Regions from separate parts of the Homo sapiens genome. Here region 2 is linked to region 1. The links come from fine-mapping of genetic effects on gene expression. A gene starts in region 1. The other region holds a variant in brackets. All regions are shown on one strand. Distances are between the middles of the regions.

Region 1 (5,384 bases):
AGATGTGTTCTGGGCCTCTTGGTTCCATTTCTGGAGAAGCATACAAATGCCTCCATTAAGCTGGGGACCTCACAAAGGACAGATAGTTATCAGTTTTGTTGGTGCATTAACCAAGAATTTGGGTTGTATTAAAAGTAATTTGATAAAGTCTTTGGTCACAATAGTCACAATAATTGAAGATAAAGTCTAGGACCTTGGGGAGACATGGCTGGAAACTTTGTTATGAGTTTATTTTTTTTAACTGATAACATTTCCTATAATGCATTATTTCCTAAAATGGTAAGAGTTATATTATCCAAAGTTTGCATTCCCATGTGGAAAGCTGGTTGAGAAGCATTGGAAAATTATAGGACCATCATTACAAGTCCAGAATGAGGAATTTGATGGGTTGACAATCTAGTTTGGTATGGTTTCTGAACTGCTCATACTTTGCTATAGAATACCTGAGGGGCTGGACTAGGCCAGGAGAGGAAATCCTGCTTAAGAGAAGCCAGAATTCTGGCCAGTCACGGCGGCTCACTTCTGTAATCACAGCACTTTGAGAGGCTGAGGCAGGAGGATCACTTGAGGCCAGGACATCAAGACCAGCCTAGGCACCATAGCAAGACCCTGCTTCCACAAAAGAAATTATTTAAAAAGCTGGGTGAGATGGCATGTGCCTGTGTACCTGGGAGGTGGAGGTGGGAGGATTGCTTGAGCCCAGAATTTGAAGCTGCAGTCAGCTATGATCCTGCCACTGCACTCCAGCCTGGGTGACAGAGTGATAATTTAAAAACCCTGTCTCTAAAAATTTAATGAATTAAAATTTTTTAAAAATAAGAAGCCAGAAACCTAGAACTAGAGAAATAGTAAATACGAAGCATCAGGACCAGATGAAGTAAAGCGATAAATTTTGAAAACAGTCAAATTAATGATAAGACAACCTGGAATAGATCCAGAAATAGGGTACAAAAGGGCTTGGGGTCAAAGGCTCAAGAAGGGGGGCATGAAAATGAAAGAGCCCTGGAAGTTTGCTTTCTGTGATGCTAGTGGAGAATGCTGAATAAAGTGAAGGAAGCAGACCTGGGTCCACAGTGAATCCTTCTGGATTTATACAGTGTTAGAATCCCAAAAATGTTTGAGAGCTGCAGGCCTTGGAACTCCTCCAGCTCAACCATCTCAATTTACAGATGAAAAAGCGGAGGCCCAGGGCACACAGCTATTTAGTGTCAGGCGGAATTCCCATTCTGAGTTCTGGACTTTCTCTGTGACTTCTCCACACTCCATCTGACTAGCAAACTTTTTAGTTCCACGTCTAATGCAGCAGCTACTATATGCCAGGCCCTGTGGTAGATGGTGGTGATTCAAAGATGCATATGACTATTATGATCTAATTGGTGACAGAGAGCTTCAGAACTAATTCTAACTGGTAAAAATTACCAATAGATTTTAATATATGGGTAAATGCTTATGTTAACAATGCTAAATGAGAAAACAGCAATGAAATTGTATATATAGTTGGCCCTTGGACACATATTTGAACTGCACAGGTCCACTTATACACAGATTTTTTTTTTCACCCAAAAGCGGATAGAAAACAGTATTTTCAGGCAGAAATGCTTAAACAGAGGGCAGACTTTTCCTATACGCGGGTTCCCCAGGGCCCACAGCTGGACTTGGACTTGAATATGGGATGATTTTAGTATGGGGGGGCGGAGGGGAAGAGGGCCTGGAACTAGTCCGTTGAGTATAACGAGGGACAATGCTAAGTATGTTATAATCTCATTAAAAGTACACAGAACTTGAGATACGCAATAACCTACTAACGAACCAAGTGTTACAAGACATGCTAAGACCTTGTGTTGTAAGTACTTGTGCACTTACTCGATCTCCCTGCTTTAGGGCCAGGACCGAGTTTTTTTGTTTTTGTTTTTGTTTTTGTTTATGTATTCTCTCGTTGTATCAGTTCATCTTGCCCCAGACCTGTCACCCACTAGAATTTGTTGTTAAACAAATGAAGCTTCCTTTCTCATGTGGCCCCCACCCCTCTCCTAAAGGAGAATAAAAGGTCGAGAGAACGGATGAGGTTAGAATGCTGGTGGGACTGAGATGGGAAAGGACCTTAAAGGTTACTCGCCCAAAGAGGAAAACCAGCCTTTTCCCTGCAGACGGAAACTGACGCGCTCCCCCTGGAGGCAGCGCAGGATGCTCCCGGGGGTCCAGGCGTCCCAGCCTGAGGTCCCCATCCTCGTGTGCAGCCTGGGCGCCTGGTACAAGTCGGGGTAACCCTGAGGCTTGTGCATCCAGAGAAGCTAGGTCCCCGGTGGAGACTAGCTTGGGATAAGGTTGGGGAGACGCCCTCCGTTCTTCTAGATGCCTGGGGTCTCAACAGCAAGCAGTGAGGAATGAGACTCTTAACTGAACAACTCCTGAGACTGTTAAAGGAGTGCATACTATTACAGGGACAGGCATCCCCTGTGAACCTACTCATGAATTTTTCCTAATGCTTAATTCAGCTTGGGGGCAGAAATGCTGGGGTGAGACACGGCCAGGTCCGCCCCGTTCCTCCAGGGAACTCCCCTCTCCGCCCTCCCTCTCCGTCTCCTCTTGCCCACCTCCTCCTCCTCCCCTCCCCCCACTCCATCCCACCGCGCCCGCCCCTCGTCATCGCCCCCTTTCCCCTCCCATCTCCCGGCCGTGGTGCGGCGCAGCTCTCTCCCCCTCCGCAGTCTCAGTGGCGAGCTCTGGGTGCTGTGGCCCGGCCTTGGCGGGGCGGCCTCCGGCTCAGGCTGGCTGAGAGGCTCCCAGCTGCAGCGTCCCCGCCCGCCTCCTCGGGAGCTCTGATCTCAGCTGACAGTGCCCTCGGGGACCAAACAAGCCTGGCAGGTAAAGATGAAGCTCCCCAAACCCAACAACCTTAGAACTTAGAAATTTCCCTGAGAAAGGCAGGACCTACCCGAGGAGAGCTTCTTTGAAGGACTTTGAAGAAAGGGATCAAACTTGACACTTTCTTTCAGTCCTCAAAGAAACTAACCACCCTTCCCATAGGCAATTCTGTGTGCCGGCCTCTGCACAGTTTAATATTAACGACAACAATGTTTGCATTGGAATATAAATGGAATTCTTTCTGCTTAAGCAGTACCAGAGGGGACCCTCTTTATTTTTATGATTGTTAACAGATGCCATTGAGAAAGGTATGAAACGCATTCCTGAAAAGTCTCTTTGGCGGGGTTACTATGAAAGCTAGCCTCTCCCCTCTACCCTTTTATCAACTTGGCTGCGGAGGTCAGCAAAAGGAGCATAGGAAAACGTTTAGAAAATGAGGCGGCGAAATGAAGTAGAAAAGCTTTTGACTTGCTTTGAAATACTCTAGCTGAAAAAAAAAAGTGTGTGGGGTGGTGATGGTGGATGAAACATTGGCAAAATATTGACAATAGTTGAAGCTGGTGATGTGCACATGGGGGTTGTACTTTTCTCTCAACTTAATACTTTTCTCTGTGCTTTTGTGTAGTCTTGAAATTTTCTATAATAAAAGGTTTTTTAAAAAGTTGTAGAAACACTCCCGCTTGATTGCTCTGACATTTTTACACTGTCCTTGATTTGAAAAGAAGCTGCTTGCTGTGTCTAGGGGGCTTTCACCCCTTATTAACCCTTCTGACTTCTGAAATTCATTCTTATTTTATCCGAAGTACATTTGTCTCCACAGAGGATTATAAAAGTCATATTTTGCTGGCTGGAGAATTATACTTAGAATCTGGTTTATAATTTAGAAGAGAGAATGTTAAAATCCCTGCCAAATAAGACATGTAGGCTTGAAGGTAGAGGCCAAGTATCATATGGAATTTTATTTTTATTAGGAAATATTAGAGGAGTTCCTTTAGTGAGGGAAGTGGTAGATGTGGATACTGTACCCCATTTTTCTTCCAGATAGCTGGGAAAACTGCATGCTTTTAAGAAGCTTTTTCACGTTTTAAAATGTGAGACTGTTTAGCATATACTTGGCATACAGTATGTGTTCATTAGATGTTAAAATAAGCAATTGCTAGTGTGAGTTAATTTTCTCCATTGGGTAAATGATTTTCCTCTGCCCAATGCTCAAATATCAAACAAGCATATTGCATTTTAACAGTAGGATCAGACTCAGAATTTGGGAGGATAGAGCTACTTTACCTTAGCACTGAGGTAACTTTGCAGATGAGAAATCTGAGATGGAGAGGTTAGGAAACAGTAAAGTTAAGTTAGTAGTATGCAAGCTATTATTTTATAACTAAAAAACGTTAAGCTTCGTATAGGTAAAACTGATGTGGGTTAGCTAAAAACATTGTGACCATAGATGCTTTAAAACCTGAAAAGTAGCATACCTATTTATAGATATTCTTTGCTCTCAAAGGCCAACTTGAAAAATACAGATAAGTCTAGAGCTATATGCTGTGCACTTCATAAGGCAGCATATGAAAGAGTCCTCTTGGGGTTCCTTTAATGTCATTCACCCAAAATTTGATTTATCCATAGGATTGCACAAATTGAGATGTACAGGTCATGGAAAAATAGCCCCCAAACAAAGGGAGGTTTTGTTTTTTATTGTGATGAGAAACAGAAGTTGTGGGTTACTGTAAAATAATCAACTGTGTAACTTTACCATCTTCCTTTCCCTCAAGTACTGCCAAACTTTTTAAGCAGACATTTTTTTGGTCTCCATTTATGAAACTAAACTTGAAAATAGTGCTATGGTATGATATTTTGAATAGAAATTGGCCCACTGTCAATGAACTTTCTTGCCATTTATTCTCAGCCTAGAATCAGTGGAGAGCTTATCCTTTAGTAATGGATTATAAAGTATTTGATAAACGTGAAATATTTGGCAGGTTCAAGATTTTCCTTAGCATTGAAATAAATTGTGGCACATTTGGGGGACTAGTTAACAGTGCTGTAGGTCATGCTGGAAGTGTGCTGGCACTACAACTGTTTTTGAAAAACTATCTGCCAGAAAATTGTCTGACTGTAGACAGCATTATCAGCCCTCAGTTCATCAGGATGGGCTCTGTGGCCTGTAGGTAGGTGGGTTTTCTAAATATAATAAATTTCATATGTCTCCCTATGTCACAGCCATTTAGTATATTATTAGCCAGTTAAAAGTTTTGCCCCTGCTGAATCTTACATGCTTTTAAAATAAAATCTATTTCACAGCTGAGTAAGTGTAAACATTTTAAATACCTGCGTTAGATTTGCCATCACCAGGCTAATTTTGCCATCTAGTGGTAGCAACATGGATAACAGGCAAGTTCTTCCCTGGATGACTAGGAATTGAACCTTCCTGAGAAGCATTGATGAGTAAATTACTTGTGTTTTCTCATTTGTGGTTTACTCTAGAACTTTAAAGCTGGAAGAAATCTTAGAAATGTTCT
Region 2 (5,384 bases), 56 kb after region 1:
CATCGACTTACACATGACCCAGAGTTCTATTCCTAGGTATATTCCAAATAGAACTGAGGATATACGCTCATATGGAAACTCATATATGATAATAAAAATCTATTATGTGTAATAGAAACAACATAAGTGTTCATCAACTGATGAATGGATAAACAAAATGTGGTATATCCATAAAATGAAATATATTCAGCCATAAAAATGGAGTACTGATACATGCTTCGACATGGATAAACCTAGAAAATGTTATGCTAAGTAAAAGAAGCCAGGCATAAAAGGCTCTAAGGGTAAGGGGAAATTGAAAGGGACTGTTTCTTTTAGGGGTGATGGAAATATTCTGAAATTAGATAATGGTGATGGTTTCACAATGCTGTAAATATACTAAGAATCATTGAATTGTATACTTTAAGTTGTTAAAATAGTGAATTTAAATGTTATGTGAATTTTATCTCAATAAAAATTTTTTCAAAAGAAAGAAAATACCTATAAAATTATATTTCATATTAATGCTTTACCCATCATTTCAACAGGGTAGGTGGTAGGCTATTTACCAGACCTGAATTGCATCATTAGGACTTCAGGCTATGAAAGAGAAAAGGGCTTTATTAGCTTTAAAAGCAAAATGAACCTGCAGAAATTCCTGATCAAATAAATGGTCAAATAGTTTGAAGAAATTGTCTGAGTTAGTCATTTTGCTGAAATGGTAGATTAACTCTTACATTCAGTGGTGATAAGTTTTTAATTGGGATGCCACTTGACTGGTGCAGCTCTAGCACCTTGAGTTCTCATGTAAGCAAAATGAAGCCCAACATAAATAATAAAATGAAACTAGAGACTTTACCAATCAGAAATTGCCAACGAACAGATTCTAACTGGAGACTTTATCAAGCAGAGATCAACAACTAACCTCTAATTATGGTCCTTCTATTCTGATCAACAAAATATATTTTGTTGTACTTCTTTATCAGCCAATAAAAGTTCATGGTCCACACTGCTGTGCTGGAGCTCTCTGAACCTCTTCTGTTTCCGAGAGGTACCTGATTCATGGATCATTCTTCACTTAAATAAACTCTGTTAAACTTGCATAATCATAGCTCACCGTAGGCTCAAACACTTGGGCTCAAGCAATCCTCCTGCCTCAGCCTCTCATATAGCTCTTACTACAGGCATGTGCCACCACACCCAGCTAACTTTTTAATTTTTCTAGAGATGGGGCCTCACTATGCTGCCCAGGCTAGCCTCAAATTCCTGGCCTCAAGTGATCCCCCCGCCTCAGTTTCTGGGAGTATATGGGTGAGTTATCGCATCCAGCTCAACTTTGTTAAATTTATTTTGTCTAAAGCTTTTCTTTTAACAGTGATCTTCCTGCAAAATGCACATATTTCTGAATTGCAAATGTCTTCCCACTTGTTCGATAAAAACTTAACAGGTCTTAATTCAAGATGGATTAAAGACTTAAATGTTAGACCGAAAACCATAAAAACCCTAGAACACCTAGGCAATACCATTCAGGACATAGGCATGGGCAAGGACTTCATGTCTAAAACACCAAAAGCAATGGCAACAAAAGCCAAAATTGACAAATGGGATCAATGAAACGAAAGAGCTTCTGCACAGCAAAAGAAACTACCATGAGAGTGAACAGGCAACCTACAGAATGGGAGAAAATTTTTGCGATCTACTCATCTGACAAAGGGCTAATATCCAGAATCCTCAAAGAACTCAAACAAATTTACAAGAAAAAAACAAACAACCCCATCAAAAAGTGGGTGAAGGATATGAATAGACACTTCTCAAAAGAAGACATGCAGCCAAAAGACACATGAAAAAAAGCTCATCATCACTGGCCATCAGAGAAATGCAAATCAAAACCACAATGAGATACCATCTCACACCAATTAGGATGGCGATCATTAAAAAGTCAGGAAACAACAGGTGCTAGAGGATGTGAAGAAATAGGAACACTTTTACACTGTTGGTGGGACTGTAAACTAGTTCAACCATTGTGGAAGTCAGTGTTGTGATTCCTCAGGGATCTAGAACTAGAAATACCATTTGACCCAGCCATCCCATTACTGGCTATATACCCAAAGGATTATAAATCATGCTGCTATAAAGACACATGCACACGTATGTTTATTGTGGCACTATTCACAATAGCAAAGACTTGGAACCAACCAAAATGTCCAACAATGATAGACTGGATTAAGAAAATGTGGCACATATACACCATGGACTACTATGCAGCCATAAAAAAGGATGAGTTCACGTCTTTTGTAGGGACATGGATGAAGCTGGAAACCATCATTCTCAGCAAACTGTCACAAGGACAAAAAACCAAACACCGCATGTTCTCACTCATAGGTGGGAATTGAACAATGAGAACACTTGGACACAGGAAGGGGAACATCACACACTGGGGCCTGTTGTGGGATGGGGGGAGTGGGGAGGGATAGCATTAGGAGATATACCTAATGTAAATGATGAGTTAATGGGTGCAGCACACCAACATGGCACATGTATACATATGTAAGAAACCTGCACGTTGTGCACATTAAAGTATAATAATAATAATAATAATAATAATAATAATAACTTAATAGGTCTGCTGTGCACTGTAAAACAGGAATAAGTAACCCAGGAAGCACAGGGCTCCTGATGGCCATGATGACAGAGCCCTGCCAGCAGACGTAGTTCAATATTCAAGTCCTGCTAAGGTTTTTAG[A/G]TCTAACTTGGGTTCTGTGATCTGAAAAGTGTTATAGCTACACCTCTAAGAAGCAATTAAGGGAAATTTGGAATAAGTGGGGAAAAGTAATCTTACTGCTTATCTATCAATAAAAACTTTAAAAAGGCAGCAAAAGGATTCCCCTTCCCAAATCTGCATCCTTCATCTCCTTCTCAATAGCAAAGACCTGTAGATTACAAGGAAAATTTGGAAACACTGCTTTGCTGCTTCTGAAGCACTTGTTTCTGGTGTCTCTAGCTTCTTTTCCTTGAGTATTCCTAGAAAGAGACTATAAAGGAATAGAAGGTTGGAAGAGATCAACTGGGGAGGCAGGGTGTAAAGGTATGTTGGAGAAAGCTGAAATAGTTCCCTCAGAATAATTTCTTAAGTAAAAGCAAAGCCACAGCTTTGTTAGGAAAGAACAGCTTTGTAAAAAATAAAATGGAGTATCTATATAAAAGAATATAGATAAAACTAAGAATTAATAAAGATAAAATAACTATGCATAAGAGAGCCTGTATATTGTGGTGTAAAATGCTAAGTAAAATAAAAGAAATAAAACTTTATGTAACTCTTTATTGTAACAAATAGTTTCTATTGTTCTAATTTCTCTTTCCGTAGCTGCTGTGGATACTTTATGCTAAAACTTTCCATATTTCACTTTCTGGGGTTTAATTACCAATAATTAAAATTTTTCTGCTTCATAAACAAAAATAAAGAGTTTTGGGGTTAAAAAAATGAGACAATCTCAGTCTGTGAAAGTGCCTACCAATCAGTCAGCAGCTTTGTTATCCTAAAGATGCAAAACAGTTGTTAATTAAGTACTTGATGAATTCTTAACTTTGCACAGTTAAGTCTTGATCTCAGGGTGGGTAATGGCCAAGGAAGTTCTTCAACTTAATATTACTTTTAAAGTGCTTTTCCCTTGTTCCCTTCTGGGTTAGTGGCCTCATTATTTGGCAAACTGCCTCACACAGAAACCTGGATGATATGGTTTGGCTGTCTTCCTACCCAAGTCTCATCTTGAATTCCCATGTGTTGTGGGAGGGCCTGGTGGGAGGTAATTGAATCATGGGGGCAGGTCTTTCCCATGCTGTTCCTGTGGTAGTGAATAAGTCTCATGAGATCTGATGGTTTTATAAGGGGGAGTTTCCCCAAACAAGCGCTCTCTTTGCCTGCTGTCATCCATGTAAGATGTGACTTGCTCCTCCTTATCTTCCACCATGATTGTGAGGCCTCCCCAGCCATGTGGAACTGTAAGTTCATGAAACCTTTTTTTTTGTAAATTGCCCAGTCTCGGGTATGTCTTGATCAGCAGTGTGAAAACAAACTAATATGGTAAAAATGGTATCAGTAGAGTGGAGCGCTGCAGAAAAGCCACCCAAAAATGAGGCATCAACTTTGGAACTGGGTAACAGGCAGAGGTTGGGACAGTTTGGAGGGCTCAGAAGAAGATGGGAAAATGTGGGCTGCGGTGGTCTCAGGTGGAGATGAAGAACTTGTTGGGAATTGGAGTGAAGGTGATTCTTGTTATGTTTTAGCAGAAAGACTGGTAGCATTTTGCCCCTGCCCCAGAGATTTGTGGAACTTTGAACTTGAGAATGATGATTTAAGGTATCTGGTGGAATAAATTTCTAAGCTGCTAAACATTCAAGAGGTGACATGGGTGCTGTTAAAGCCAATCAGTTTTAAAACAGAAACAGAGCATAAAAGTTTGGAAAATTTGCAGCCTGACAATGTGACAGAAAAGAAAATCCCATTTTCTGAGGAGAAATTCAAGCCAGCTGCATAAATTTGCATAAGTAACAAAGAGCCGAATGTTTATCACCAACACAATGGGGAAAATGTCTCCAGGACACGTCAGAGAACTTTGTAGCAGCCCCTCTCATCACAGACCTGGAGGTTTACGGGGTGGCGGGGGGGGAAGTGGTTTCATGGGCTGGGCCCAGGGTCCCTGTGCTGTGTGCAGTCTAGGGACCTGGTGCCCAGTGTCCCGGCTGCTCCAGCTGTGACTCAAAGGGGCCAAGGGACAGCTTGGGCTGTTGCTTCAGAGGGTGGTAGTCCCAAACCTTGGCAGCTTACATGTGGTGTTGAGCCACAGAAGCTAAGAATTGAGGTTTGGGAACCTCCACATAGATTTCAGAAGATGTATGGAAACACCTGGATGCTCAGGCAGAAGTTTGCTGCAGGGGCAGGGCTCTCATGGAGAACCTCTGTTAGGGCAGTGCAGAGGGAAATGTGGGATGGGGGCCCCCACACAGAGTCCCTACTGGGGCACCACCAAGTGGAGCTATGAGAAGAAGGCCACTGTCCTCCAGACCCCAGAGTGGTAGCTCCACTGACAGCTTACACCATGGTCCTGGAAAAGCCACAGACACTCAACACCAGCCTGTGAAAGCACCCAGGAGGAGGGCTATACCCTGCAAAGCTACAGGGATGGAGCTGCCCGAGGACCATGGGCGCCCACCTCTTTTTTTTTTTTTCAGGTGGAGTCTCGCTCTGTCACAAGGCTGGAGTGCAGTGGCACAATCTCGGCTCACTGCAACCTGCGCCTCCCAGGTTCAAGCAATTCTCCTGCCTTAGCCTCCCAAGAAGCTGGGACTACAGGCATGTGCCACCATGAGCAGCTAATTTTTGTATTTTTAGTAGAGATGGGGTTTCA

The links.
Region 2: its variant is fine-mapped to the expression of PRSS35 in lung (TOPMed, PIP above 0.99).

What each region holds. Positions count from the first base shown.
Region 1 is chr6:83,509,830-83,515,213 of GRCh38, forward strand. PRSS35 (serine protease 35) reads left to right here and starts at 2,705. Exons shown (of 2, transcript NM_153362.3): 1 at 2,705-2,865.
Region 2 is chr6:83,565,919-83,571,302 of GRCh38, forward strand. All of the region lies in intron 26 of SNAP91 (synaptosome associated protein 91), which reads right to left. Among named protein-coding and RNA genes, the nearest start is that of PRSS35, 56 kb to the left of the region's middle. The variant A/G (reference allele first, on the strand shown) is at 2,723.